7 separate regions of the Homo sapiens genome follow, and all the other regions are reported to be linked to region 2. The links are microRNA targets in miRTarBase. Many come from high-throughput screens and were not tested one by one. Region 2 holds a microRNA gene; each other region holds the end of a gene's coding sequence.
Evidence for each region. The annotated mature microRNA hsa-miR-6843-3p reads AUGGUCUCCUGUUCUCUGCAG and lies in region 2 at 2,127-2,147, opposite strand. An mRNA with a match to its seed (bases 2 to 7 or 8) in the 3' UTR can be bound and repressed. Matches are read on the target gene's strand: a 7mer-m8 pairs with bases 2 to 8, a 7mer-A1 pairs with bases 2 to 7 and ends in A, and an 8mer does both.

Region 1 (3,081 bases), not on the chromosome of region 2:
CCTGACCTCTCCCCCACATTCCTCAGGCCACCTGGGGGCCCCGAAGTGCACCCGCTGCCTCATCACCTTCGCAGATTCCAAGTTCCAGGAGCGTCACATGAAGCGGGAGCACCCAGCGGACTTCGTGGCCCAGAAGCTGCAGGGGGTCCTCTTCATCTGCTTCACCTGCGCCCGCTCCTTCCCCTCCTCCAAAGCCCTAATCACCCACCAGCGCAGCCACGGTCCAGCCGCCAAGCCCACCCTGCCGGTTGCAACCACTACTGCCCAGCCCACCTTCCCTTGTCCTGACTGTGGCAAGACCTTTGGGCAGGCTGTTTCTCTGAGGCGGCACCGCCAGATGCATGAGGTCCGTGCCCCTCCTGGCACCTTCGCCTGCACAGAGTGCGGTCAGGACTTTGCTCAGGAAGCAGGGCTGCATCAACACTACATTCGGCATGCCCGGGGGGAGCTCTGAGTGCAGCTTAAGCCTCTCCACGGTGACGGGTGGCTCTGTGGCTGGTAGGACTCACCCATGATATGGGGTGCAGGAACTCTGGGGGCCCTGAAGGATTTGCTTCCCTCCCCTGGGAAGGCAGAGGGCTCTTAATAAAGAGGACCCAGAAGATTCTTATTTAGAGCTTCAGTCTTTGGAGCACACAGGGCCTTCGTGAGACAGTGAAATCAGATAATAATGAGATCTTTTGTTAAAAAAAAAAAATGGGAAGGGAGTGCGGGAGAGAAATGGTTTGTGTCTCCCTTATTCCCAGTTAAATACCTAGCTGCAGATTGTGCCATCACCCTTCATTCTTCCCAGATGGATGCCATGGGCTATGGGAGCAAATTGCCCTGGACCTTTGCCTGAATGGGGGCAGGAAAGGTGAGGTGTTGCTGGCCTGTAATGCCACCAGGTGAGTTCCAGATGTGGAGCAACTTGGGCTTTTGGGGATGGGGCAGCAAAGTTGGGAGCTGGACCCCAATTGAGTGGGGGTAGCAATTGGAGTCCTTGTGTCTCTTTTCCACCCCCTGCCATCCTCACTTAGAGGGGCCATGGCACTAGATGGCACTAGTCCCCCGATAATTTATGTCTCGTTGAAATAATTTTGTATATCATTCTAGTCCTGAAATATTTTTTTCATATGTGTAGGTGAAATGGTATGAATAAGCTAACAGGAATAGTATCTAAAAACAGAAAACATCCATATTAAAATGTCTAAACAGGGAGCTCTGGCTTTTGAGTGGGAATTTCCAGAGAACATAAGGGTGTGGGCAGGTGGGGGAACTCAGGCCAGAGTTGGCCTCGCTTTGTGGGGAAACTGGTTTGGAATCAAACAGAGATACCTTCTGTTTCGGGTTTTATTTGGCCAACACTGGGAGATTTCCCATTAAGATCCTATTTTCAGCTCTCTTGAAAGGCCCAACCTAGGCTGACATTGTCAGCAGGGGCAGGACAGAAGTTACAACAGGCTGGAGGGAGCAGTGGGTGTCACCCTCAACTGGAGATGAGTCCCACCAGGCCAGTTTTACCCCCTTAGTTACCTGCCCTGCACCTGCAGACAATGGTCGATGCCTTGCATATAATACTTATAGACTCTGTTTATGTTGAGGGATGTTTTTAAAGCCCACAGGTGAGGTGGATGTGGTAGACTGATCACTGTCTCTGTTTTTAGCTAGGCACACAGTAGCTGAAAAGACTGCATTTCCCAGATTCCTTTGCAGCTAGATGTGGCCTTGTGACTGATTTCTGGCTAAATTCCTGGGTAGAACAGTCAAGCTTAAGAAAGGGACGGCTGGGCACAGTGGCTCACGCCTGTAATCCCAGCACTTTGTGAGGCTGAGGCCGGTGGATCACCTGAGGTCAGGAGTTTGAGACCAGCCTGGCCAACATGGTGAAACCCTGTCTCTACCAAAAATACAAAAATTAGCCGGGTGTGGTGGCATATGCCTGTAATCCCAGCTACTTGGGAGGCTGAGGCAGGAGAATTGCTTGAACCTGGGAGACAGGTTGCAGTGAGCCAAGATCGTGCCATTGCACTTCAGCCTGGGTGACAGAGTGAGACTGTTTAAAAAAAAAGAAAAGAAAGGGACATACCTTTTTTCCACCTTCCTAACTGTAATACGGAAATGGTATCCAGCCATCTCAGACCATAAGGATAAGAGCAACACGTGGGAAGACAGAGCAACAAGATAGGAGCCTGGGTCTCTCGTCAATTTCAAGGAGCACAGCCACCATACCAGCCCACTTCCATATTGCTATCTAAGAAAGAAACTTCTATCTTATTTAAGCCACCATTATTTTGGGTCTCTGTCACATGCAACAGAATTTACAGCCTAAGACAGGGGTCTGCAAACTATGGCCAACTCTAGCCTGCTGCCTGGTTTTGCAAATAAAATTTTATTTGAACAGTTTTATACTCATTCACTTATGTATCGTTGATGGCTGCTTTTGCCTAGAACAGCAGATCTGCATAGTTGCAACAGAGATTTTAAGGCCTACAGAACTTAAAATAGTTACCATCTAGCCCTTTACAGGAGAAGTTTGCCAACCCCTGGTCTAATAAGACATTCAACCTACTCTGAGTCTGGAAGCAGAAATTTCCATCCTGGGAACCACCATCTTTACCAGGTAGGTAGGTAGGTAGGGTATGTGTGTGTGTGTGTGTTTTGGGGCAGGGCTACCCTGGATCTCTTTGCTGGGGTGACTTATGGGGAGACTGGTTGGAGTTAGTAGACCATCAGTTTTTTTCAAGATACCAACTTCATGAAGAGCCAGATATTTCCTCTGGCTCCTGGTGAATGCTCCGAAGTTTCCAACCCAGATATTGTCACACTACCCCCACAGTGGCTCCCCTAAACCAAACCTAAGTATCTAATCCCACATGCTCTCCCAAGATAGCAGCCTGCCCAAGTACACCCTGGGCTTCCTGTTCTCTCCAGACATCACAGATTCTCTAAATAGCATCACTGATGACATCCACATCTTTATCTGCAGCCCAAACCCCAGACATAAGATATAACCACTTGAATAAACAAATGGAGATCTCAAACTTAAAATGGGTCAACAGGACTCCTGCGGCCCAACCTGCACCACCATTGCCATCATGT
Region 2 (3,081 bases):
CTATATCCACTACTGGGCTTAAGATGTTTCTTTATGAAGTAGTCCAGAACTCTAGCAAGACGTGGGGTGCTGTGTGCCTGCCTTAACCCTAACCATATCACCCCTATTAGATAAGCTTCCTGAAGGTTGGACGCCACGCCTGTCTGGGCCCCTGCCGCCACCCCATCCAGAGCCTGCTTGGAACTAGCATGTGATCAGGGCTTAGAAACATCTATTGAAATGAATCTGGGCATTAGGCCCTGGGCCAGGCTCATAACAAAACCAGATCCAAGATCTCACTCCCTGATGCTTTCAGAAGCAAATGAACCTTCCCTGCTTCTTAATTGCAGCCTCAGCATCAGCTGACACAGCCTGGGAGGACTGCGGGTCACCATGGCAACCCAGCAGGGCACCGCGCAGTGACCCCCTCCCTCCCCTCCAGTGGGATGGTCAAGGCAGGGAGGCGGTAGCGGCTCCTCCTGACCTCTTTCTTCTTCTTGGCTTCTTCTAGGTTGCTGAGCAGTGTCTTGCGCTCTTCGTTTGTTTTTTCTATGAGAGTCTTTATCTGTTTCACCCCGTTGACAGCATTTTGAATTTCCTTATTGACGTACTTACTTCCCTGATTGGACATTTCTGCAAGAGAAGTGCAAGAGGCAGAATGAGGCGAGAGGAAGAGGTGGCCTCAGGACCCTGGAATGAGCTGGATGGCCAGAAAGGCCCGTTCAGTTCAGGGGCTGTCAAGGCTGGGACCCCCACTCCTGCCAGCAGGCAGCAGCATGGCCCCAGCCTTGCCCTGGCACAGGCTCCCATCACAGGCTCCTTGCTGACTGCACCCTACTGCTTAGAAATGCAGACCATGGGAGCCGGCACACCCAGAGTTATGCCCAGCCACTGCCATGTGCCCCTGGAGAATGAGCTGGGTGCAGAAGAAACTTGGCAAGGAAAAAAAAAAACCCAGAAGTGTCAGCTTTGCAGCATCAAAATATAAAATATTGTTATTTTGGACACAAATCTTTCTAGAGTTCAGTTTAAACAGATATGTGTATTTCTTTGTTCCAATGCAGTGCCAGGCGACAGGAATAAGAAGATGAGTAAATGAGTAAGGTATAGCACTGGTGACAAATGCAGCGAAACACTGTGTCACCTAAGTGCTACTTCACTGGTGTTTATCCCATGCCAAGCACTGCGCCAAACACTTCATGTGCAGTTTACATAATGCTCCAGCCCCCCGCCGTGCCCACTTCGCAGAGGGAGACATGGGAAGTGTGATATGATAAAGGGTCAAAGTGTTCATCAGGTAGGAGGAGTATGTTCTGGAGGTCTAACATACAGGTGGTGCTTATAGTTAATAACACCATATCATAACTGGAAATTTGCTAAGAAAGTAGATTTTAAGTCTTCCCACCGTCCCACCATAAAAAGTGGTCATCATTTCAATGTATGTGCATTTCAAAACATCACGTCATATACCTTAAATATACACAATTTTTATTTGTTAATTATATCTCAATAAAATGGGGGGTGGGGGGAGTGTCATGAGATCAAGATAGTGGCCCAAAGTCACCCAGCTGAGAAGAGGTGAAACAGACTCACACCCATGTCTGATCTGGGTTTTTAACAATGATCCTGCAGAAACCGTCAGCTCACAGGAGGGATAAGCTCTGGGCACTCCAAAGGGGAGAGGGATAAGAGCTCCGGTGGTCCAGACACAGCTTCGTGGAGGAGGCCTGGGAGCTGGGCTAAGGGGCCTGGGAGGGGAAGAGCTGAATGAAATGCAACAGCCGAAAGTGCTTGGGAAATGCCTGCAAATGCCGGCAGTCTGATGCACGCAGAGCCTGAACCAGGGGCCTCGGAGCTGAGGCTCAGAGTGGGCCCAGACACAGGCACCCAGACCCAGTGCACAAGATAAAAACGGTCTGTAACACTGGGGCCTGATAGAGAGGCACTGAGCAGAATTAGCTACCCTGCCCTCTGACCTCATCACCCTGTGGCCAGAGGAACATCATGCTTGGTCTACTCACCCTGGAGCTCATTGTCTGAGACCGTCTGGTCCCCCAGGACCTGCCCACTCTCCCAGGTCAGCAGCAGCCCCACAAACAGCAGCAGAGTCTTCATCATGCCTCCAATTCTGGAGTCTTTGCACGCCTCTGCAGAGAACAGGAGACCATCATGGGAACAGCTAGACAGCCTGCTGGCGTCCCGCCCACCTGCTGCCTGCAGCAGCTCCCCAGGGCCTCACTGCCCTCAGCTGTCCCCACAGCAGGCACTGCTGCACTTTTATTCCTGAGGAAATGGGGGGAAATGACCAGACTTGCCATGGACACCTCGAATGAAAGCGAAGGCAGGAGGTGCAGGGAGGGAGGGACTGCAGGACAGCAATGTTGAGTGGAAGAAACAAGAACCCTGGCATCGGAGGAACCAGGCTCTTGTCCAAGCCACATCCTCCCCGACAATCAGCGAGGCACACAGGCTTTCTGCATCCTGGCCTCCTTGTCCAGAGTGGTATCGATCATGTCAGACACTGAAAATACCCCCCTTAGGTCATGCATCCGTCCCTCCCCATGCCACCTCCACAGAGGGACTGCATCCCAGAGACCAGCCACGTCCTCTGCAATGTGCACCTAAACCTTCACCCCAGCAGACGCTCCCCATTCACCACAGCGCTGCAGCCCCCAGGGAGTCTCAGCACCACCTGAACTTGACTTTCAAGAGCCGGAGGCAACAGCAGCCAGCCCTTCACACCGAATCCATCTGCATCCCTAGTGGGAGACTTGGGCCGGGCTGCCTGTGCATTCAGGGGTGGAAGTAGTGGAAGCCAGGAAGGACAATTCCCTTCGGAGAGTAGAGAGGGTTCGCAGTGGCCCGAGGAGCAGGCTTCCCAGAGAAAGTCCCTTTGGAAGGATGAGTCCTCTTGCTCTGCCAGGCCCTCCACACTGCCCATCCCCTCTAAGCCGACAGCAGGCTGCCCTGCCAGTGTTCCTGCCACCACTGGGCTGGCTGCCCTGAGCCACGGGGCACAGGCCATAGCCCCGGTCTTACACAATGGACCCTTTCCCAGAAGCTGAGGCTGTTGCATAAAACAGAAACCCCTCCCCCTGCACT
Region 3 (3,071 bases), not on the chromosome of region 2:
GAATGAGCAGTGGTAGGTATTACCTTGGAGTTGCTACATCTATAGAGTCCCTCCTAGTGAACTGGAATCTGCATTTTAATGAGATACCCAGGTGATCTGTAAGCACATCCTGAAATGCTGAGGAAAACCTGAAGTCAGCAGCAGAAAGGCGGACTCCAGCTGTGTCCAGGCATCCTTCGTTCCGAGTCCAGTCCTTACCTGGCCCATACAGGCCCAACTCCCAGCCACTCTTCCTCCTCCATCAAGCACCACCTATCTCTTGAGATCTTTCACAAAAATAAACTTTAGGGAAGGGTGGGACCTTTGGAATAATCTAGTCTTACCCCACCTCATGGCCTCTTGCATGTCAGCGCCATCACCATCATCATGCCACGTGCTGTGTCTCAGAGCCTGTTCCCTCCTAGTTTAAGATCTTTGAGAAACCATGTCTTTTCATCTCTGTATCCTCAAAGTCTGGCTGATCCAGTCCGGTATATAGCAGGTCTGCTAAATTGTTGTTAAACTGCCTTAATTTCGATAGATGAAGCAAGCAGAGCCAGGAGAAGTTGGGGAGATCAGCTAAGATCACTGGGCAGTCAGGTGCTGATCCACGTCCAAACTTCTGAACCAGGGAGGCATACAAGATGCTTTAGTGACTTACATGTGTGTGCCATTTTTATTTGTCTCCAACACCCACCCTATGTTGGATGCCATCTCAATTCTTCTTGTGTATTGAGAATGAGTCTTTTATCTAAGCTCGTTAAAACAGAAATTCCATCCATATTTACTTCAAAAGACTCAAAAATACAATTTAATAGAATACTTAATATGAATTTCACAGGCACCAAAGTTTACAGCTGTTGAGGATGAGGTCACACTGGCCCAACTAAAGTCATGTCACCTCTCTCACATCGTAGCATTCTTTTATCCTTGTTTTACACTCTTAAGAGATAGCATAAAGAAGAAAATCAAAACCCAGAAAAGGTTTGCTGTAATTACTCCAATAATTTCCTTCAGTGAAAATCTCTTATCACTATGATTTTAGTGACAGAGGAACAAGCAGAGCTCTGACGTGGGGCTGAGTGCCCACTACTAAAGGGCAGAGGCTGCCGCCAGGCCACCAAGGCCCATCTGGCCAGGCAAGGCCACCCAGAGCCCTCACGTTTACTCCAAACGGCCATTCTTGAGCCAGCTGGGTTGGGTCCCACCCCTTCTGGCTTGCACCACCACAAAGAAAACCTCAAGAATATCTGCTTTGCCGTTTTTTTTTTTTTTTGCAGACAGAGTCTCGCTCTGTCACCAGGCTGGAGTGCAGTGGTGTGATCTCGACTCACTGCAACCTCCGCCTCTTGGGTTCAAGCGATTCTTCTGCCTCAGCCTCCCGAGTAACTGGGACTACAGGCACGCACCACTACGCCCAGCTAATTTTTATATTTTTAGTAGAGACGGGATTCCACCATGTTGGCCAGGATGGTCTCGATCTCTTGACCTTGTGATCCGCCCGCCTCGGCCTCCCAAAGTGCTGGGACTACAGGCGTGAGCCACTGCGCCCGGCTGCCTTTTTTTTTTTTTAAAAAAGGAGAAAAGTAACAATAAACAACAGCCTTAAGAAAAAACAAGAAGCAACACAGATCATATGGGAAGCACAACTTTCTCAGCCAAGTAGCCCAAATTATCACAAATAATCCTACCAAGAATACACCTAATACTGGAGGGGAAAGAATGCTTACACAAAACTGTTGTTTGCTTTGAAGCTTTGAATAAGTTCCAAGTTTTTATATTTCACAATTTATATACTTTATTACAGTCCACAGTCTGCTAAATAAAAGCAGTAACAAGATATTTCACAAACTATTGTACAAATTAAGTCTTATGAATTTAATCTCATAAAAAATTAGGTGCATAGTCACACTGGCTAACCTAAAAATGCTATTTTATCTACAGCCTAAAATAAGAGGCAGTTCCAACACTAAAAATTAATCCCAGTTTTTTTTTTTACATGTTTTACAAAAAAAAGTTTGTGCTCTTAATCAAAAAGATCGAGGCTAATTCAGCATGTAAAAAATAAATTTTACAAAGAACCCAAGATAATATTTTTCAAACACACTTTTATTTTCTTTTTTTCCTTCCTCACATACAGAACTTCTCCACATACCACATTTCTTGCAGCTATAAAGTCACTTGATGTTGGCCGGGTACCATTTTATCCCTAAAACTCTGTTGACATCAAAATATGACAGTTGTTATATCCATAAAATATTTACATAGCACGGCATATTAAGCTTTAGACACTTGGCAATTAAACCACATAAAAAGAGGACAAGACCCCCATCCTACATGTTTGGAATCAGGTGTTCACCGGTCCCTATCTGGCGACTGTACACTGGTTCAAAGGGCAGCAGAGGCAACAGGCAGTTACTTCAGAGGACACTGAACACTATGATCTGGAAGCACGTTATGATGTAACCCAATGTCATGTACCACACACCTTTCTCCAAGGTGGTCTCATAATTCTAGAATGGAAGGTCCAGCTGTTACAAAATGAAGACAGACAACACAACATTTACTCTGTGGAGATATCCTACTCATACTATGCACGTGCTGTGATTTTGAACATAACTCGTCCCAAAAACTTGTCACGATCATCCTGACTTTTTAGGTTGGCTGATCCATCAATCTTGCACTCAACTGTTACTTCTTTCCCAGTGTTGTTAGGAGCAAAGCTGACCTGAACAGCAACCAATGGCTGTAGATACCCAACCTGGCAATAAAAGGAAAATATATTAATTCAAACTCTATGGAAACTTAATACTTCTCTCTACCAGGAATTGGCTTATTCTGTAAATTTTCTTTTTGAGACTGTTGCCCAGGCTGCAGTGCAGTGGTGCAATTATGGCTCATTGAAGCCTCAACCAATCCTCCCACCTCAGTTTCCTAAGTAGCTGGGACTATAGGCACATGCCGCCACAGCCCACTAATTTTTAAATTTTTTTGTAGAGACAGGGTCTCCCTGCCCAGGCTAATCTCAAACTCCTCGCTTCAAATGGCCCTTCCACCTCACCCTCCCAAAGTGCTGGGATTACAGGTGTGAG
Region 4 (3,081 bases), not on the chromosome of region 2:
CCTGGTGAAGCCACAAGGAGACCACCTTGATTTTCACGCAGGGAGGTCTTGGTTTCACAGCTTGGTTCAAGTTTCCTGAGGTGTCAAAACTATCTGATACCTCTTCGGAGCCAAAACAAAGCAAGCAGCTCCCGGAGGCAGATAAACTTAGGCTCCAACTCCTTCTAGAAGCTGAGTGAAACCACTCCTTCCTTGTCCAACTGGAAAAACCTAAGAAATAGGCCTCTCCAGGTCCCTTCTGGTCTTTGAGATAATTCTCTAGGAGAGCTGTGGCCATGCCTGCATTAAAACAAATGCGACTGGCCAGGAATGCAGTGTAGAATTGAAACATCAGGGCTGAGTGATTCATTCCTCTTTACCCAGTTTTTGTTTTGTTTTGTTTATCTGTCTTCCCTCTTGGGGAAGCCTCCACCCAGTTCTCCCATCCAGGCCAGTGGGTTCTGAACCCCCTCCTTCCCTCCTTCAGCCATCCCACTTGCCCTGCTTGGGCCTTTTCAGCAGTGTGTGTCACATCATCATCAGATGGAACCAGAAGCAGCCAGGAGTGCTTTTTGGCACTTCCAGCTCAGCCAGTACCGTAGAGGATCCAGGGTTACTATCCATGGTGAAAAGAACTTTCTCTAGAATTGGTATTAATGAGGTTAAGTAACTTAATTTCCACCAACAACTTATCCAGACATTTAAAAAGGCAATAGAGATAAACAGCTTAGTAACAACAGATTGGCCTTCAAATTTCAGAGTATTGTTTTCTCCCTAACTGAGCTGTCTGCTTGACTGGTTAGTCTAATAAATGCACGGAGAAGGTGCACACACAACACAGTACTTTTCACTATTTAACACCATGATCATGTGGAATACATTAGAAAGGAAATAGGTCAAAAACCATCATGTGAACCGTCTAATTTGATGTTTGGGCTAAGGCTAAAATCTTCACAGGGAGGTTCTAAAGTGCTGAAATGCAGAACATTCAGGCTGACTGGTTCACCCACACCAGAGAGAGAAACTCAAGTGGGGCTGGGAGGGCAGGGGGGCCCAGAAGTGACCCAGGAATAACCTGCCCTTGTGTTCATTTCCAGAGACCAAAAAAAAAAAAATTTTTTTTTTTTTTTTTTTTTTTTGAGGCAGAGTCTTGCTCTGTCGCCCAGGCTGGAGTGCAGTGGTGCGATCTTGGCTCACTGCCACTTCTGCCTCCTGGGTTCACGTGATTCTTCTGCCTCAGCCTCCCGAGTAGCTGGGACTACAGGAGCCCGCCACCACGCCCAGCTAATTTTTGTATTTTTAGTAGAGATGGGGTTTCACCATCTTGGCCAGGCGGGTCTCGAACTCCTGACCTTGTGATCCGCACACCTTGGCCTCCCAAAGTGCTGGGATTACAGGCATGAACCACCACGCCCAGCTCAGAGACCAAAATTAAAGAATCTCAAGTAATTAACTACTGTAGCCAGGTTTACAATATAGTACCAGAGTCTCAGGGATGGAAGGAATTCATCATACAAGATCCTGGTCACCTTAACCTGGCCTCACAAAAGCCATCTTTTCAAAATTGAACCATCACTATAAAAAGAAAATTGGTGTCAGTGAGTCCCAGGAATACACATAATAGTTTCTTTAAAGGCAGGGCTAATTGGTGACACATCTCTCTTGGAAAGACACATGTACCACAAACAAAAACAGGATCCAACCACTTGTATCTAGATAGTTATCTTTCTAGGCAGAAAATCTAACATTCAGTAACTAAACCAAATCCCAGAGCCTCAGCAGCCAAAATGGCCCTAGCTGACATTTCATCCAGCCTCATTTTATAGAGGAGAAAGTAGAGGCCCATATCTTGTCCATAGTTGTACACCTGGGATCCAGGCCAGAATTCTTATAGCTACACGGGCCTGGGATCCAGCATTTTAGGTTGAGTAAAATCATTTCCTGCTAGGTCCCTGATTCTATTGAGAACCAGGGCTAAGGCTTTATGGATTTGGGAAAACTTAAGTTTCTATTGCAAACTTCAACCAGTGGGTCCCAGAGGTGCTTTGAAGTCTCCGGCTTCCACATTTGACCACAAAGTGCTGCTTATGTCCTGATGCTTACATGATTCAGTTAAGGTGCTTTCCAAACCCGGTGACAACAGCTGGGGCCTTCATCTCCAGTAAGTTTCCTGATGAGCAGCAGAGGTCTATACTTAGGGTTCCTGTGAAAAACACAAACTCCCAGTCTCACATTTGGTCACACTGAAGGTTTGGCCAAATTATTTCATACAAGTAGTTCTCACTGGCCAAACAGGTGGTTTTTCTCCTGGAAAAGTGGGATCAAAGTGACTTTGGTCCTGATTGTTCTTGCTTCCAAGATGTGTAAGAACCAGATCACCACCCCCCAACCAAAAAGCAAAACAAAATAGATATAGCCTCCAGATTAATAGTTGCAGACTGGGATTCCAAATGTTTAAGAATCAGTGGGGACATTTTCCATGTCTTCCATGGAGTAATTAAAGTAACCAAAGGCTTACCCCAAAATGGGCTCATGCTCATATCTCAGGCTGTTCCTCCATCCTGCAGTTTAATTACAAGGAGCAAGACTGAATCCATGGACCCTTAAATTCTCCTTGTGCCTCTCCAAAGAAAAGAAGGAAAAGAATTAAAGATGGTGACCCTGGGGGACGGGCTAGTAGCAGGAGTACAGCTGTGACTTCACAGCTCGCAAGGAGTCGTCACACTGTGCATCTGAGGTCAGGCCCTCGGGCAGCAGCGTCTGGCCCAGGATGCTGTCACAGGCAGGAACAGGTTGGCAGAACTCTTTCACAAAATCGTCTTCTGAAGCCAGCAGTACCGCGTTCCAGGTGGCAGTGTCCAGCTCCCCAGCCGTGCCCCCATACTCCTTGGGGAGGATGCTTCTTGGAAGGTTTGTGTGGAGAGAGTTCAAGTCAGACCCATGGAGGAAGAACTAAAAGGGAATGAAATGAAAACACACATGTCCTTAGGTTAATCAGGAATGCAGAAATCTCCTCCATGGTAGGTGCTCAAATAAATATCTGTTGAATGAAGAAAGGAAATGTTAATGGCAACTCTACCCTTACTTTTTCAGCCCAGAAAG
Region 5 (3,081 bases), not on the chromosome of region 2:
GTTTCTGTCAGACAAATAATTTCATTGCACATCTAAGACTTCCAAAGATAATATCCTTTATTCTGCTCATTTTCTAGGCGTTCACAGATTCCCCTCCTATTGTTTGATTACAAATTCTACTAGCAAATGACACCTGCCACAGTGGAACTGCTTAGCATCCTTTACTAGTAGGATTATAGCTCACATTTGTGGAGCTCTCGTATATACCAGGCACCATGCTAAGCAGTTCACATTGATAATCCTATTTCTTCTGCTATGATATAAATGGGGTTCCACTGTGTGGCCTAATACGGGCAGCAACAACTCTGATGACCTGGAAGAACTCAGCCCTCTCACTCTTGTCTTTAGGTGGCAGCTTGGCAGGCCCCAGTGACTTTCTCTAAGGACCCTGAAGCAAGCTTTTCTCCTAAAGTAATTGTACTCGTTGATTTTTTTATGTGCTGCAAATATTTTCTTCCATATCTGTCATTTGTGTTTTAACCTTGATGTTTTCCATCACACAGAGACTTTCGATATTTTTTGGTTGCGAAATCTGCTTATCTTTTCCCTTATTATATCTTTTAAGTCTCATGTTAAAGTTTAGAAAAGACCGTCCCACACCAGAGGTATAAAAATTTTTGAGTAATTTTGTGGTATATCTTCCCTCTGGAACTAATTTGTATGGACACTGTGAGGTAGAGATCTAACTTAGTGGTTTTTTTTTTGGCTGTGTCACCCAGGCTGGAGTGCAGTGGCATGGTGGCATGATCTAAGCTCACTGCAACCTCCGCCTCCCAGGTTGATGTGATTCTCCTGCCTCAGCCTCCTAAGTAACTGGGATTACAGGCGCGCGCCACCATTCCTGGCTAGTTTTTGTATTTTTAGTAGACACAGGGTTTCGCCATCTTGGCCAGGCTGGTCTCGAACTCCTGACCTCAAGTGATCCACCCACCTTGGCCTCCCAAAGTGCCGGGATTACAGGCGTGAGCCATCGCACCCAGCTGAGATCTAGCTTTGATAGCTAGTTGTCTAAAAGTGCTGTTTATTAAATAATCCACCTTTTTCCCCACTTAAAACATCCCTCTTACCATATACTAAATTCCTGTAGCCCTGGGTCTGTTTCTGGACTCTCCCGTCTGTCTGACCCCCTCCAGGTCACACTGAGTGAGGTAATGGTGGCGTGAGAATCCTCTGGGAATCTGGCAGGATCACCCCCGAGCAGTCCACCCCCCAACTCATTATCATCGTTCAGAGTGGTCTTAGTGTTCTCACACATTCACTCTCCCAAATGCACTTTAGAACTGTCAATTCCAAAGTTTCAATCTCATTGGAATTACACTGAATTTATCAGCTGATTTGGGGAAAACCAGTATGTGGACAGGAACATGATGTGTATCATTGGGTTGACTTACAGAATACTCTTAACAGGTCTTCAGTTGATTCTTAGGTTTTACAGGTAGGCAGTTTTATTGTCTACAAATAATGACAATTATAATTCTTCCTTATGTTCCTCATCTGGCTTGTTGCAGGGGTTAGTAGTGCCGGGACACTGCTGAATAATAGCTTGCCCTTGGCTAGTTTCTGACTTTAATGGGAATGCCTGTGGCGTCTGACTCTTTAGAATGCCATCACTGTTGGTTTCTGAAACAGACCTTTATCTAGATTAGGGTGTTTCTTTCCAGACTTAATTTACTAAGAGTTTTAATAAGGGATGGATTTTAAATCTTACGAAATACCTTTTCAGCATCTATAGAGCTATCATAAATTCTTCCCTATTAATTGAAGCTGAAATGAAGGCTCCTGCACAGCCATACTGCCTCCTCATATACTCTACATGCCCCTAGTCCCCTGTGCCAGGAACTGAATACCTCTGCAGATAGACTAAAGGTGAGGCTTCAAGGTCTGCCTGCTAGGCGTGGTGCTGAACGCCTTCTCAAGCTGCCCAAGCACATGGAGTCTTGGAGGCTTTCCTTTCCAGAGAAAGAAAGTAGGACCAATCCCCACTCCCTGCCATAATAAGAAAGAGCCCTTGGGGACAGCAGCATACAGAGCACAGAAGCCAAAGAGAATTCAGGCAGGGTGAAGGACCCCACACCCCTGCCACCATCCCACAAATCAGTACATAGGCCAAGTGCCCAGTTTGCCAGGGGTCTTGCTACCTGAAGTGACCTATGATCTCTGGCCATGACAATCTCTAGCGAGTCCTTCCTGCCATTCTGCAGCCTGTTAGCCAATGCATGCAGGCCAGGCGGCACTTACTGCAAAGCCATCACAGAAAGCAGCGAGGCCTTCAGACTCCTAGGAGAAACAGTGATTCCTTCTACTGCTCCATCCCCACTGCTAACTCTGGGTCCCCACCCCTGTCCTCCCAGAGTCACTCTGATCCTGCTCATCACACCAGGACATGGAGTCTCTACATAACCACAGGATTCCCCTAGAGCCTGCTGTTGCCACAGTGACCCTGATGCTGGGCTGTTACCCACTTAGCCTCCCTTACCTCTTCTGTCTGCTTCCACCACTTCTATATCCCTGTTTGGAAAAAGGATGGGTGCCTGAGCCTGTGCCCAGTTGGGTGTCCACTCACAACCCAAAGCAGAGCCTGGCACTGCCCACTCTGACCAAGGGCCTTCTCTCCCTGATCTCACTGGCGTCTGCCCTATTTACCCATCACTGGGTTTGTGGGTTGCGCCGAAAACACAGCAGCAGCAATAAACAGAAAATGAGGGCAGAGCCCAGTGTGTCACAGTTCTGGGAGGCAGATCGGGATGGGATACCCGTGTGGCTTGTCCAATGATCTTCATGTTAAGAGGCAGTCTCTGTGAATGAACTTTCTCTTCAGGCCACAAGAAGCCCTAACCCAAGCGGAGGCGAAAGGTAGCAATCTCCATGGGCTCCAAATAGACGTCAGTGCTGTTGGACGGGGAGGCCAGAGGGTACAGTAACGTCAAGGAGGTTGGCTGAAGGAATACCACATCCAGGCCATGGAAAAGGCTGCCCAGGGCTACCTGTGGAGAGCAGAGAAGGGGCAGGGTTGTGCTAGGTGCCGAGACACTAAAGAATGTGGCTGTTCATCTACAATTTGGTACCTCTTTAAGAATCTCA
Region 6 (3,065 bases), not on the chromosome of region 2:
TCAGACAACTCAATTATAAATCTGAATTGTTAGAGTACTTATTCTAGTTATAATTTTTATTCATCAATACCTTTTTTTTTGAGACAGAGTCTCACTCTGTTTTCCAGACTGGAGTGCAGTGGCACTATCTCAGCTCACTGCAACCTCTGCCTCCCAGGTTCAAGCGATTCTCCTGCCTCAGCCTCCTAAGTAGCTGGGATTACAGTCACGCACCACCACGCCCGGCTAATTTTTGTATTTTTAGTAGAGACGGGGTTTTGCCATGTTGGTCAGGCTGGTCTCGAACTCCTGACCTCTTGACCTACCCACCTCAGCCTCCCAAAGTGCTGAGATTACAGAAAGGGAAATATGAAAAAAATGTGATGCAGGGGTCAAAGCTTCCTTTAGTAAATATTCTTGGCTGGGCGTGGTGGCTCACACCTATAATCCCAGCACTTTGGGAGGCCAAGATGGGTGGATCACCTGAGGTCAGGAGTTCAAGACCAGCCTGGCCAACATGGTGAAACCTCGCCTCTACTAAAAATACAAAAATTAGCCATGCGTGGTGGCGGGCACCTGTAATCCCAGCTACTTGGGAGGCTGAGGCAGGAGAATCGCTTGAACCTGGGAGGCGGAGGATGTGGTGAGCTGAGATCGTGCCACTGCACTCCAGCCTGGGCAACAGAGTGAGACTCTGTCTCAAAAAAATAAATAAATAAATAAATATTCTTAAGTGGCCATTACGTTTTTTGTGTTGTTCAGTGTACGTATCCAGGGAGTATTTTTATGAGAAGAAACTAGTAATACTTATTTTCTCTACAACATTTAAGTAGAACCATAACTAACTTCCCATTAACAATAAGACAGGAATTAAAGTTGAATATGTTGTTTTACTATCATTTAGAGTCTCTGTGCTAAGCCAATTCTGGGACTGCTTTTCCATCTTTCACATTAGAATCAATAGTGTTTACAAATCTGGACAAATGCTATGAGTTTAGTAATACTAAATTCAATGATGATTAATTTTTCGTAATCAGCTGCCTTCTTATGCAAGTTTTCATGGCATACAGACTGTCAAGAGAGTATTCTAGGATAGCAACATCTCTATTACCAGATTTTTTTTCTGGTTAAATAATCCAATTGTTTTTAATGAAAGATATTAGACAAAAAAAGTTAGGTCAATTAGGTAACATTTGGTGCAGTGTAAGACACAGGCAGTGATGCAATGCCAACTTGAGAGCAGATAAAAGAAGACAGTGAATTCTAGATGTGATACTTTATCAAATTGTAAAATTTTATAAAACCTTACTAAATTGATATGCAAGAATTTCCAAAGGAAATTTATTTTTGAAAAACTGCATTTCATTTTTTAAATTCAAAACATCTCTCATACTAGAAAAGCTATTTTACAGTTCAATAAGCTAAATTTTTAAAAAATGATAGAAGACTCACCAAGGCAACATAAATAAGTTTCCAGGCTAAAAAAACTATCCTTCTGCTTTCCAGACTTTACTATAAACATAAGAATCACAGTATAATCCTAGCATCTCAAAACTAATATATTGAAAACATTTGGTAGTTGAGACTTTCTGAAATCAGTTTTTTGAACTTTATTTTACAATCAGGGATGTACTTTTAATTTTTTACAACATTTTCTCCCTAGAGATATAATTTAGATATTCCTATCTTCAAAGTAAAAATCAAAATAGGAAATAAGCATAGAAACAGCCTATTGGCAGTGGTTACACCTGCATGGTATTTATGAGTCTCCAAACTATTGGAAATTTATTTCAACCAAGGTTCTCTTAAGTCTTCATTACTTGGGTGTAACTCGAGAGAAAACTAATTTATATCAATTTACAGTTTAGTGGTCATGATCAGGGGAAAGTGATACTCTTCCACTGACTACAAGTCATTGCAGAGGCAGTTTAGAACTTTTCCTTTATTCCTAATATACAGGACAAACCTTGCCGACATCTCACTACCTCGAAAATCAAATTTAAATGAAGTATCCAGGAGTAGCCTAAAGAATGAGTGTAATCTGGATGGATTTTAGTCTAAATTTATGCCTTGCTCTTCAGTAAAGTATAGTAACTCCAGATATATGTTCCACAGATGCAATAATTTCTGTTCCTTGTTCGGTGCAGAATATAATTTATACTTCCTGAAATCAACTTTGTCTATTCATGAAAATAGCTGCTTTTTATTTGCCTTTGTCTCACTTTGAATATATATGATCCACAGGTTACAGACTTTTCCAATAACTACATTTCAACTTGTACTTCATCAGCAAACATTTGAGAGGATGTTATTTCATAGGTTAACTATTTTGAATTCATTGTTGATCAAGTTAGTAGTAGTGGGCAATTTTCTTATAGAAAGCAATTCCAAACATAATGAGCAGATGCTTGCCAGCTCTAATCAATAAGCTGTATGCCTTGTCCTTCTCCCTGTATCTGAGGATCATATACTACTTTATTGTCCATGTCCTCATGCAACAGACACAAGGGATTACTGGAAAGAAAAAGATTACAGGATCAGATTTGTCCTTCCCCCACTCCAAAAGGCCAAAACATTTCAACAGCTATGTTTTCAAGTAAGATTTATATCCTACAATATCCTTTGAGGTTTTCTTACTAGAATGAAACACATTTTAGGAGAGTTAATGATTTCGTTGGAGCGGGGAGAAACAGGCAAGTCACAGGATTTTCAAAAAGTATAACAATTCAGGTAAGAATATACATTAATTAATGTTGCCCTAAGTTTTATCAGTTAAAATTTTTTTTTAATTTCAAGGGAAGAGGCTTTAACATGAGAAATACAATATATCCCAGTCCATTATCTACATATTCTTCATTTTGGCCATGAGGTCTTCCAAGCTTTCACCAGAATCTTCCACTGTTAACTCAGTGACAGAATCTTCTTGCTATTGACAAATAAGGGAAATACAGTGAAAAAAGAACCATATAGAATTCTTGATGCTTAGGAATATATAATCAGCAAGTTTTGACCATGCTCAACAAGGTTATAAAGTAAATTTTCTTTAACAACTATCTTCTAATTTTTAGAAGAAAGACAGAGTCTTT
Region 7 (3,081 bases), not on the chromosome of region 2:
CCCAGTCCTTCATTCGCAGAAACCAAGACCTCATCTGCAGCTTCTTCACTTGGTTTTCAGACCACAGCCTTCCAGAGTCCGACAAAATTGCTGAGATTATTAAAGAGGATCTGTGGCCAAATCCACTGCAATACTACCTGTTGCGTGAAGGAGTCCGTAGAGCCCGACGTCGCCCGCTAAGGGAGCCTGTAGAGATCCCCAGGCCCTTTGGGTTCCAGTCTGGTTAACATTTGCCCTTGGGAATACTCCTGCACAAGGTCTCCTACCACCTTCTGCTGGACCTGTGCTTGGGCATCAGCAATGAGTATGCCTTCTATTGTGCTTTGTTTTTGCTGACTTTTCTGCACCCTGTTTCCTTTGGATATTCAGTTCTCTCAACCTCAAGATTGAGACGGTGGTGGGTATGCTTCTCCACTTCCATATGACCTTCATGCTGTTCTGGAATATCACATGCTACGAGGTCATCCTTCACACTACTTGTAAGCCAAGCAAATGATACTGTAGATTGTACTGCCTTTATCTGCACTGCTTGGACCCTGTTTATTCCCAGGGCCTCTGAACTGGTTGCTGTCACTTGGATTTCTAGCTTTGGGAGCCTGTTCCACCTACTCAGCTCTGCATTGAGCAGTATGGGCACATGCCCTGTGGACAGTTACTGGACGTTAATGAACTCAGAGGAGAAAAGCAGTGAGCCACTTGTTCTGTGTGATTTATGGTACTTCATTGCTCTTCCTTCACCTCTAGTCACTTTCTATTGCTACCTGCCCTACATTGGCTCCTGCCAAGGTCCCTCTCTCTCCCTGTTTTCCTTTTTTTTTTTTTTTTTTTTTTTTTTGAGACGGAGGACGGAGTCTTGCTCTGTCGCCCAGGTTGGAGTGCAGTGGCGCGATCTCGGCTCACTGCAACCTCCACCTCCCGGGTTCAAGCGATTCTCCTGCCTCAGCCTCCCGAGTAGCTGGGACTACAGGCGCGCGCCGCCACGCCCGGCTAATTTTTATATTTTTAGTAGAGACGGGGTTTCACCATGCTGGCCAGGCTGGTCTCGAACCCCGATCTCGTGATCCGCCCTCCTTAGCCTCCCAATCCTCTCTTAAAAAAGTGATAGCTCAGAAACATTTGTAAAAGCAAGGTTTTTATTTCATTTTGGCTCTGTCATTTTCAGAGGCAAAGAAGTTGGCCTGTAAAATAGAGTGCTAGAGCTCTTACGCCCCTCCCCTTCTTCCCAACTTCCTACTTCCTAGCCCTTTTATCAACTCCTAGAATAGTTAAAGAGAGACACATCTAGATGGGATGAAAGGTGCCCTAAGCAGGAGAAACTGAACAAAAGGCTAGAGGCATGGGCCAGGTAAAAATTGGGCCTAGAGTGAAGACTGTGCTGTCGTTAAGAGCTTTCGAGGAAGGAGTACTTACTCCCCAATGATGATGAATGGAAAAATACTTTTCAGGGAGAATTGAAGGGGTTAAAGTGTTAAATATGTTGCCTAGACAAGGGTTCTTTAAAGAAAGACAGCGCAACTTTGAATGCTTTCTTACTTGTTTTGTGACCTAATTTATGTGGAAGATTGTTATTTCATTAGGATTTAGTAAAATTTTTTTTTCTGATTCTAAACTTATTGTGAAAATTGAGCTGTACAGATATTCTTTTGATTTCAATTGGGAACATTTGGAAGAACAACAGTCTTACTTGCCTGTACAATATAGAGACATATGAATAGTCATAACAGTTTTCAACTTGTTCTTGTTTCTGTTAAACTATATTCCTAGAAACATAGTTTGAACAACTTGGTCTTTGTTAGGCTTGTCAAATTGCCTTCATGGAAAAATAATCTACAAAAGTATGGTTTAATTGATTGTCTTACATGATAATTTTCCCTGGTAACAACTTAGTAAGTGATATATCTTTTTTCCTAAATTGCTTAAATACTGTGAAATTGCTCTGACAAATTGGAAGTGTACCATTGGCATATTTGTCTTCCTTTTTATGCATGATGGTAAAATAAAAGCATGTTGTTCTGCTAGATTTCTTATTTTTCACCTTACCCATAAATGTAATGCTTGAATGAAGTTGTTCATATTAATTAAAAATTATGGAATCATTAAAGTCCTTTAATCCATTAAAGTTCTTAATGGATTAAAATCATTAAAGTTCTTAATGGATTAAAATCATTAAAGTCCTTAAATTGATGTTAACTAAAAATTACAGAATCATTAAAGTCCTTAAATGGACACAATAGACATTATCCCAAAGAGAAGAAAGCAGGGCACGGTATGTTTGGTACCTTCCAAGGTAGTTTGCCTTAAAACGTTAGCAGTTGCAACTGCTTACTCAATCACTTTTTTCCATGTAGTTTATGCAGCACAACCTCCCCTTCAGTTGCTCAAATCCTCCATTTCTGTCTCCATAAATTATATTCTCAGGTTATTCAGGCTCTTCTTTTTATTAACTTGTATGCAGGGAGTACCTATCATATGTGATGTACTCCTCTATTTTCATACTTTCTCATCTGTAAAAACTTCCTTTTTTTCTTTAAACTTCCTCACTGTTCTCTTCTGTCAAATCCTTCAAGGCCTGCCCTTGGTAATTCCTCTGCCAAAGTCTTTCTGTTCCCCATAGAGGAGATAAATGTTTCTTTATGCACTTAGTGTACTTTGGAGGGACCTCTGTTCTAGAAAATTAACATAATTATTCATTACAGTGAATTCCACAAATAGAGAAAAAGAGTAAGAAGATAAAGTCCATTCCCTTCTTTGGGGAACTGGGGAAGGACTGATAAGCAAACAAAGAATTAACAGAGTGATACAGTAAAATAAAATACAGAGATTATATTTTCATGTTTTTCCCATGTTCACTCTTTTCCTCTCAGTAGTTTGGAAACTTTGTGAAAGTGGAGATGCAGTGCATTTTACATGGTTCATTGCATCTAGCATTTTTTTTTTTTTTTTTTGAGATAGAGTCCCACTCTTGCCCAGGCTGGAGCGCAAGTGGCGCGATCTCGGCTCACTGCAACTTCCGCCTCCCGGTTTCAAGCAGTTCTCCAGCATCAGCCTCCCGAGTAGCTGGGACTACAGGCACGTGCTACC

Region 1: the mRNA of ZNF576 is a reported target of hsa-miR-6843-3p. Seed matches in the 3' UTR shown: 7mer-m8 at 1,845-1,851.
Region 3: the mRNA of ATP1B3 is a reported target of hsa-miR-6843-3p. Seed matches in the 3' UTR shown: 7mer-m8 at 2,480-2,486.
Region 4: miRTarBase lists TTPAL as a target of hsa-miR-6843-3p. The part of its 3' UTR that is shown has no 7-base or 8-base seed match.
Region 5: miRTarBase lists MAN2A2 as a target of hsa-miR-6843-3p. Seed matches in the 3' UTR shown: 7mer-m8 at 896-902.
Region 6: miRTarBase lists UBA5 as a target of hsa-miR-6843-3p. Seed matches in the 3' UTR shown: 7mer-m8 at 276-282.
Region 7: the mRNA of TSPYL1 is a reported target of hsa-miR-6843-3p. The part of its 3' UTR that is shown has no 7-base or 8-base seed match.

The regions. Positions count from the first base shown.
Region 1 is chr19:43,598,805-43,601,885 of GRCh38, forward strand. It overlaps ZNF576 (zinc finger protein 576), which reads left to right. Exons shown (of 3, transcript NM_001145347.2): 3 at 27-2,353. The coding sequence ends at 454. Among named protein-coding and RNA genes, the nearest start is that of ZNF576, 3.8 kb to the left of the region's middle.
Region 2 is chr8:27,608,475-27,611,555 of GRCh38, forward strand. It overlaps MIR6843 (microRNA 6843), which reads right to left and starts at 2,277; the gene lies at 2,127-2,277. CLU (clusterin) reads right to left here. Exons shown (of 9, transcript NM_001831.4): 2 at 2,001-2,126; 3 at 464-612. The coding sequence starts at 2,097. RefSeq lists enhancers at 555-1,261, 1,968-2,675.
Region 3 is chr3:141,925,200-141,928,270 of GRCh38, reverse strand. ATP1B3 (ATPase Na+/K+ transporting subunit beta 3) reads right to left here. Exons shown (of 7, transcript NM_001679.4): 7 at 1,722-2,740. The coding sequence ends at 2,570. Among named protein-coding and RNA genes, the nearest start is that of ATP1B3, 50 kb to the right of the region's middle.
Region 4 is chr20:44,489,113-44,492,193 of GRCh38, reverse strand. TTPAL (alpha tocopherol transfer protein like) reads right to left here. Exons shown (of 5, transcript NM_001039199.3): 5 at 1-2,931. The coding sequence ends at 2,653. Among named protein-coding and RNA genes, the nearest start is that of TTPAL, 15 kb to the right of the region's middle. RefSeq lists an enhancer at 2,090-2,199.
Region 5 is chr15:90,919,538-90,922,618 of GRCh38, reverse strand. MAN2A2 (mannosidase alpha class 2A member 2) reads right to left here. Exons shown (of 23, transcript NM_006122.4): 23 at 40-2,984. The coding sequence ends at 2,832. Among named protein-coding and RNA genes, the nearest start is that of HDDC3, 11 kb to the left of the region's middle.
Region 6 is chr3:132,676,283-132,679,347 of GRCh38, reverse strand. UBA5 (ubiquitin like modifier activating enzyme 5) reads right to left here. Exons shown (of 12, transcript NM_024818.6): 12 at 1-2,905. The coding sequence ends at 2,822. The region is part of intron 26 of NPHP3-ACAD11 (NPHP3-ACAD11 readthrough (NMD candidate)); the gene reads left to right. Among named protein-coding and RNA genes, the nearest start is that of UBA5, 17 kb to the right of the region's middle.
Region 7 is chr6:116,275,663-116,278,743 of GRCh38, reverse strand. TSPYL1 (TSPY like 1) reads left to right here. Exons shown (of 1, transcript NM_003309.4): 1 at 1-3,081. The coding sequence ends at 227. It also overlaps a transcript of DSE not described here. Among named protein-coding and RNA genes, the nearest start is that of TSPYL1, 2.7 kb to the left of the region's middle.